Linked DNA regions of Homo sapiens. The protein of the gene in region 1 interacts with the protein of each later gene in a pairwise test. Each region holds a gene or a part of one and is shown in the gene's direction. Other genes may lie near its edges.

The links.
Region 2: the proteins of ATG7 (region 1) and RWDD2A interact in binary tests that used the Homo sapiens proteins (3 or more experiments, as listed by UniProt).

What each region holds. Positions count from the first base shown.
Region 1 is NC_000003.12:11,359,093-11,363,008, forward strand, and holds part of ATG7 (ubiquitin-like modifier-activating enzyme ATG7), read left to right. Parts: intron 1-1,488; coding exon 1,489-1,692; intron 1,693-3,720; coding exon 3,721-3,836; intron 3,837-3,916. UniProt on the Homo sapiens protein: E1-like activating enzyme involved in the 2 ubiquitin-like systems required for cytoplasm to vacuole transport (Cvt) and autophagy.
Region 2 is NC_000006.12:83,191,472-83,195,387, forward strand, and holds the start of RWDD2A (RWD domain-containing protein 2A), read left to right. Parts: upstream 1-1,885; 5' UTR 1,886-1,972; exon of another isoform or gene 1,973-2,840; 5' UTR 2,841-2,980; coding exon 2,981-3,181; exon of another isoform or gene 3,182-3,797; coding exon of another isoform or gene 3,798-3,800; intron 3,801-3,916.

The sequences.
Region 1 (3,916 bases):
CAATTATGTTTATATATAAACATTGATATGTATTTTCTTAAGTATCTACTTATCTGTCTATTGAGAGAGGAGAAAGAGGACAAGAAGAAGGGAGAAAGAGAGGGAGAGTATGGGAGAGAAAGGGAGAAAATAGTAGGTAAAAAATACACCAAACTATTAATAGTAATTTTTTGAGCTGCGGGTTGTGAGTGATTTTTGTTTTCTTTTGTAGTGTGTTTATTCTTATTTTTCAAACTTTCTATATAATCAGATATTTGGGATAATAAGTTAAATTAGAACTATGAAAAGTTGTTATAGTATAATGAAAAAACGGTTTCTTAAAAATTTATGTGTTGGGCTGGACATGGTGGCTCACATCTGTATCCTAGCACTTTGGGAGGATTGCTTGACCCAGGAGTTTGAGACTAGCCTGGGCAACATGGTGAGACTCTCTCTCTAGAAGAAAAACAAAAAATTAGCTAGGTGTGGTGATGCACACCCGTGCTCCCAGCTACTCAGGAGGGTGAGGCAGGAAGATCACTTGAGCCTGGGAGGTTGAGGCTGCAGTGAACCGAGATCACGCCATTGCATTCCAGCCTGGGCAACGGAGTGAGATCCTGTCTCAAAAAAACCCCAAAGAAACAAAAAAACAAAAAAAAACCAACTATGCGGAGCCAGGCATGGTGGCATGTGCCTGTAATTCCAGCTACTGGGATACCAAAAAAATTCTATGTGAAGGGTGAATTATATGGTATGTGAGTTATATCTCAATAAAGCTGTTATAAAAACAAATCTATGTGAACATGACAGTATAGCATAATGGTGGAAAGAATGTGTTTGAGAACTATGTAGACTTGGTTTTATATACCTACCTCTTGCCAGATAAGTGACCTTGGGCAAGTTATAGAACTAACTTCTCTGACTTTCAGTATCCTCATCTATAAATAAGAAATGTTTGTTATGAGTTTTTTTGTTTGCTTTTTTCTTTTTCAGAGATAGAATCTTGCTCTGTCACCCAGGCTGGAGTGCAGTGGCGGAATCTCGGCTCACTGCAAACTCCATCTCCCAGGTTCAAGCATTTCTCATGCCTCTGCCTCCTGAGTAGCTGCGACTACTGGCGCAAGCCATCATGCTCGGCTAATTTTTTGTATTTTTAATAGAGACAGGGTTTCGTCATGTTGCCAGGCTGGTCTCGAACTCCTGACCTCAGACAGTCTGCCCGCCTTGGCCTCCCAAAGTGCTGGGATTACAGGTTATGAGCCACTATACCTGGTCTGTTATGAGTTTCAAATGAAATTAAATGAGATAATTTATGTTCATCACTTATCAAGTCTTTTGTAATTAATAAGCCCTCAGTAGTGGGTAGATTTTATCATCATTAGCTTTTATAATCTAATTACACTTACATGCAAAAAATAAATTTTAAAAAGTTGAGCAAATATGGAATTAGCCACAGCTTGAAATATATGTGTCTTTTAACTCTGCTCTTTCATTCCTTGAAACCTGCAGCTGGTCATCAATGCTGCTTTGGGATTTGACACATTTGTTGTCATGAGACATGGTCTGAAGAAACCAAAGCAGCAAGGAGCTGGGGACTTGTGTCCAAACCACCCTGTGGCATCTGCTGACCTCCTGGGCTCATCGCTTTTTGCCAACATCCCTGGTTACAAGCTTGGCTGCTACTTCTGCAATGATGTGGTGGCCCCAGGAGATGTAAGTGGATTTCTCTATAGTTCCAAATATTTCCTATCACCAACTTGTACACTGAGGCAGACCGACTTGGCCCTTTCATTTATGACTATTTAAATATTATCTTTTAACAAAGAGAAGAATTCTCCAATTTGGGGAGGATGGCATTATCTCATTATGAACCTTGACTGGCGTCATCAACTGTACACCTGTTCCTTGTTCACCAATATAAACGCGGCTACAAACCATATTTTTGGAAAGCTTATTGAGGAAACCACAGCAGACTAGTCCCTGATAGCACTCCGTATTGTCTCCGGTGCTTCTCTTAGTCAAGATAACATTACAAATCAGGAGTCTAAAGACCAGATTCCATCAATGGCTTGACACTGCCTCCCAGGTAGTTCTAAAAAGTCTCTTAGGTTCCCTCTACCTTTGCAAAATAGGAGTGATGTGTAGGCTTGTCAGATTTAGTAAGTAAAAATATAGGATTCCCAGCTAACTTTGAATTTCAGTTAATAATGAATTCTTTTTTTTTTTTTTTTGAGACAGAGTTTCGCCCTGTCACCCAGGCTCGAGTGCAGTGGCACAATCTCGGCTCCCTGCAACCTCTGCCTCCTGGGTTCAAGTGATTCTCCTGCCTCAGCCTCCTGAGTAGCTGAGATTACAGGTGTGTGCCACCATGCCCAGCTAATTTTTGTATTTTTAGTAGAGACGGGGTTTCACCATGTTGGTCTGGCTGGTCTCGAACTCCTGACCTCGTGATCCACCTGCCTCAGTCTCCCAAAGTGCTGGGATTACAGGTGTGAGCCACCACGCTTAGCCAATAATGAATAATTTTTTGGTATATGTCCCATGCAATATTCAAGACCCACTTATACTAAAAATTTATTTATCTGAAATTCAAATTTAACTGAGTGTCTTGTATTCTCCCTAGCAATGCTAATAGAGGAGGGAAGAATACCTGCCCTGTCAACTCACAGTGCAAAGTGGGTCAAGTGCGACAGTGCTTTGAACAGCAAGACTACACTGTACAAATTAAGATTCTATGACTTTCAGAACTCCACACAAGTCAGTCTGTATGTAGGTCTGTTCCTTTATCAGAACAGATAACGATTTCCAGTGAAACAATGCAGAGATGTTTTCTGTAACCTCCCCTCTATTTTTCCTTTGTTTTAAAACTTTTCCCTTAATAACTCATATCTCTTTTGGATGACTGGCTTTTATGCCCTCCCAATATAAAGAAAAGAAGATGACCATTCTCTTTTATGGAGAAAGATGGCTTGATGATCTCTGTTATGGTGTTATAATATATAGCTGGTCTTGTTATTTAGTGATTGTCAACAAATACGATTAGTGGTCCCTTGCAGTAAAGTCCCATCTGCTCATAAGGTAAAATTTTTATAGAGTCAAAAATATCTCTAACAACCTCTTAATTTGCCCAGAGTTGGATGGTTAGACTCTCTTTGGTTGAACCAGCAAAGGCTTGTGCTTAGAGCCATGTTGTAGAAAAAAAAAATACTTGTAGTAAACCCTAGAATCACACAGAGAGGTGATGCCCATGTTGTGAGAGGCACATAGGAACTGAGGGCCGCAGGAATAGTAAATTGTTGCTCCCATCTCACGGTCACTTTGAGGTGTTAGCTCAGTTAAAATGGCAGGGCAGAATCATTTGCACTTTTCAAATCATTGTTCCTTTCTGTGTCTCTGTCACTTAACTACCAAGCACAGTAGAACTGAATTGAGTCACTTAAAGGAACACATGATGCAGTTCCATTATATGAGGCAGCTAAGCCCTCATTTTTGGTTAATATCCCCCAATCTGTTTAGGCTACTGATCCTTTTTAGCATATCACCTCATTTAGTTACCTAAATTGTATATTTTGTTTATCTTGATAATCTCAAGAAATGATGTACTTGAGGCTGGATGTTCTTTGCCAACAATGAGCATCTGGTTATAATTTAAAGCTTTGTCACAGAGGATTTCATACTTGAGACAGCTAGAGTTGAATGGAGTAGAACGTTCTGCACACACCAATGATTGTTTCTTTGCAGTCAACCAGAGACCGGACCTTGGACCAGCAGTGCACTGTGAGTCGTCCAGGACTGGCCGTGATTGCAGGAGCCCTGGCCGTGGAATTGATGGTATCTGTTTTGCAGCATCCAGAAGGGTGAGTTTGCTAGTAGGAGATGAGTATTTAAACAAAGCTTTTGTAGGCAGTTGTTCATCAGTGTCTCCCATGGCCTTTTC
Region 2 (3,916 bases), on another chromosome or scaffold:
ATATCCCCAAATATCTGAGAAATCTTTGTGGTTCTTTTGCTATTTCTCCCAAACTACAGAGACATATTCTTAAAGGAAAAGCAAAAGGCAACAGTTTCTTCTCCAAGACTACCCAGATCTTTTTCCATTTGCTAAAAACAATCAGGACACCCTTCTAAGATGTTGCTCTAAAACTAGCAATATCTTCTTCTGAAAGAATGCCACCTTTTTCCTTTACTTTTAAAAATAAAACATCGGCCGGGAGCGGTGGCTCACGCCAGTAATCTTAGCACTTTGAGAGGCCAAGGCAGGCGGATCACCTGAGGTCAGGAGTTTGAAACCAGCCTGGCCAACATGGCGAAACCGCCTCTCTATTAAAAATACAAAAAAATTAGTCGGGCGTGTTAGCTGGCGCCTGTAATCCCAGCTACTCGGGAGGCAGAGGTTGCAGTGAGCCGAGATCGCGCCACTGCACTCCAGCCTGGGTGACAAAGGGAGACTCGGTCTCAAAAAAAAAAAAAAAAAAAAAAAACAGGCCAGGTGAGGTGGCTCAGGCCTGTAATCCCGGCATTTTGGGAGGCCAAGGCGGGCGGATCACGAGGTCAGGAATTCAAGACCAGCCTGACCAACATGGTGAGACCCTTGTCTCTACTAAAAATACAAAAAGTAGCCTGGCGTGGTGGTGCGCGCCTGTAGTCCCAGCTACTCAGGAGGCTGACGCAGGAGAATCGCTTGAACCCGCGGGTGGAGGTCGCAGTGAGCCGAGATCGCGCCACTGCACTCCAGGCTGGGCGACAGGGTGAGACTCCGTCTCAAAACAAACAACAACAAAAAATCGGCCCTTAGCCCACTAATACTGTTTTCTCTGGGATACTCCCATTAAGTGGAACTTGGGGTTTCCAACCTCAGTCAGTAGTTTTCCTTCAGTAGTCCATATACTACATTTCCTGGGTCAATTAATTCCCAATTAGCCCAGAGATGAGGAGCAGTCCGCCAGCTGCTAGCCTCATAATTTTGTTTTCTTTATTGTCCTTCATTGCTTCAATGAACAGAACTTGCAAGAAATGGTGAAAAATACTTGCTTTTGTCCAGTTGGAAAAAGCTGGCATTCAGTAAACTAATTTAGTTCAAGACAGTGATCAGATCTCTTTCCTAAGGATGAATACATATTTGTAAAAACTGAGCAGTCAGTTATGTGTCATGATTATTCATAAGAGTGTAAACCAGTCCTGTTAACTCCAAAAAGCCATTAAAAAAAAAAAGGTCCAGATAATATGAGTTCATCCTTTCATGCGTTTTAGGCCCTACAACTACTTTCAATGCCTCTGCGAATGCCTTTATTGAAAGCATATTTGCCAAATCCAGCGTCCACGCAAAAAGTTAAGAGTATCCCCCTACTCTCCATTCAATCTTCAAATCTCCTTGGTGCCTCTCTCCCGCCTACCCTCGAATCACCGCACAAGGGTGATTCCCGGCACTCCACCCTGAGGTCCCCGCCTAGGTCCACGTACCAGAGCCCCGGCAGGAGACCCGCGGCCCGTCCCGACCAGCCCGCCCGCGGGGCGCAGGGGCCTGTAGGTGTGTCCCGCGCGCTCCGCCGCTCGGTCAGTCGCCCGCCAGACCACTAGCCCCTCCGTCGGGCCGAGAATCTGACCTGTCCCGCTCCCACCGAGCCCTTGCCGACCGGTAGTCTCCCTTCTCAACTCCGAGCCTCGGGGCCCGGCTTACCTCGGTCAGGAAGCCCCCTTCACCTACACGCAGCGGAGAAGCGCCCAAGCAACAACGTCTGCACCCAAACCCAGTCCTCAGAACCGCAGACGTGGCCCTGCGTGGCTTCCGGCTCGTCGCCACGCCCCCTGGCCAATCACGGCAGAGGACTATCCGCCAGCCCCGCCCCCGCCTCGCCGCAGGTCGCGCGCAGCTGGCGCCTGAGGAACTGCGGCTGCGGTTCCGAGCGGGGTCTGGGGCTGTTACCATTGAGTGACCAGAAAGGGTGAGGCCCCCGCGGTGGCCCGGGGGTTGGGGCCGAGGGTCGCGGGCCCTCAGAGCACTGCGGCCGCGGAGGCACAGCCTCCGCCTCCAAATCCGGGCCTCTGGGGGCGGCAGGCCCTGCGTTCCTGGGAAGCCGGGGTTCCTAGTGGTCTTGGCTAGGGGCGGGGGTGGGGAATCAGCCCCGTCGCTGGGCCTCGGACAGGGCGACCTCGCCCACAGTGAGCGCCGCCGGCGGCCCGCATCCCCCTCTCCGACGTCGAGGTCATCTCCCAAACCTTTGAATCTGGGAAGCCTTCTCCGGCTGCCGTCTCCCCGGGTACCCCCTTCCCCCAGCTCACTGTAAACATCTTTTATTTAATGACCTCTGAGACACCCCCTACCCTTATCCTGGGTCCCTCGGGGCAGAGGCCAGTGAATCGTAAACGTCCGGAGCCCTGGAATGCGGCCCAAGCGAAAAGGCCACCGCGGTGTTGGGGGGGGGCGGTCCGCGAGTCCAGGACCGAGGGGTGGCGACTGGCGCTGGGGAACTCGGAGCCCATCCTGCTGGCACTGCGGCCTCTCTCGCCGCAGCGTCTGGCTCCGCCCAAGCCCGAGCCCCGGGTGGGATTGGAAGCCGGGCCCCAGCCTTTCCCAGAATTCAGGCTTGCAGAGCGTCTGCAGGTGTCTGCCTGCCACCTGCAGCGGGACAGTTCCAAACACCTGTTGAAAGTGCAGATTCCCCTATCTAGTGCGGGGTGCGGGAGGCGGGAACCCGGAGCCCGGGTACGCAGAATATGGGTTTTTACGGAGTGTTTTAGAGGATGTTGTGCATACTAGATTTTGGAGTCAGGAAATAAAGAAGAGTGCAAGTGTCTGGTTTGTGCCCCTAGCTCTCGGTGCAAAGCGTTCCTGCAGAATTGCTTCCACGTAAAGGGACCTTCGGGAAATTTCGCTGGATACCGGCTGGCATTGACAAACCCAGCGTCCCTGAGCCTTGTGAGGTTTCCAGGCAGGCTGATTGCGAGGCAACATGTCTGCTTCGGTGAAAGAAAGCCTTCAGCTTCAGCTACTGGAGATGGAAATGCTGTTTTCTATGTTTCCTAACCAAGGAGAAGTAAAACTTGAAGATGTAAATGCCCTGACGAATATAAAGAGGTATTTGGAAGGCACAAGGGAGGCGCTGCCACCAAAAATCGAATTTGTAATTACACTCCAGATTGAAGAGCCCAAGGTAGGTACCCTGATTTAAGTGTTTGCCAGGTGCCCAGTTTTTAATTGAAACATCTAGAACATGAGCTTTCTGTCAAGGAAAGATAGAAATATTCCAGGTGCATATTTCCTTGTTTGAAAGATACGGAATGCTCTATAAATTGTCTTCAGTAAATATCTTTAATTTTATGTAAACATATACACCTTTTTAACAAATATACCTGGAGTTTTTATTGACGCTATCTTGCAGTCTTATGCCATTATTATTTTGTTCACCCATCCAGTTGGACTACCTTTCACATGTATCATGATTTTCATAAATCTAAATATCTCCTGTAACATAACTGTCTTTTAAGGAGTGAATGAGTGGATTTTTTGATGGCACCATAACACAGAAAGCAAATATGGATGGAAAAATCTAAAGACTAAAAATGAATTTACCTCCATCTTCTGATCCATTTATCTCCAGCAACATTAGCATAGCATAGGTAATACGTGGACTGGGCATTTGAGAACCACTGTTGTAGCTATTTCCTACTCATCCTTCAGTTGTTATTCCCTCAGAGGAGACTTTCTGGTTCTCCAGACTGGATTCTGTCCCGCTGGTTACACACTTCAATGGAACCCTCCACTTTTCCATGGTAATGCTTTTCACAATTGAAATTAAATACTTGCTATATGTAATTATTTGTTTAATGTGTGTCTCCTTCACTAGGCCCTGGACTTCATGAAGGGCAAAAATAGTGTCTGGTTTATT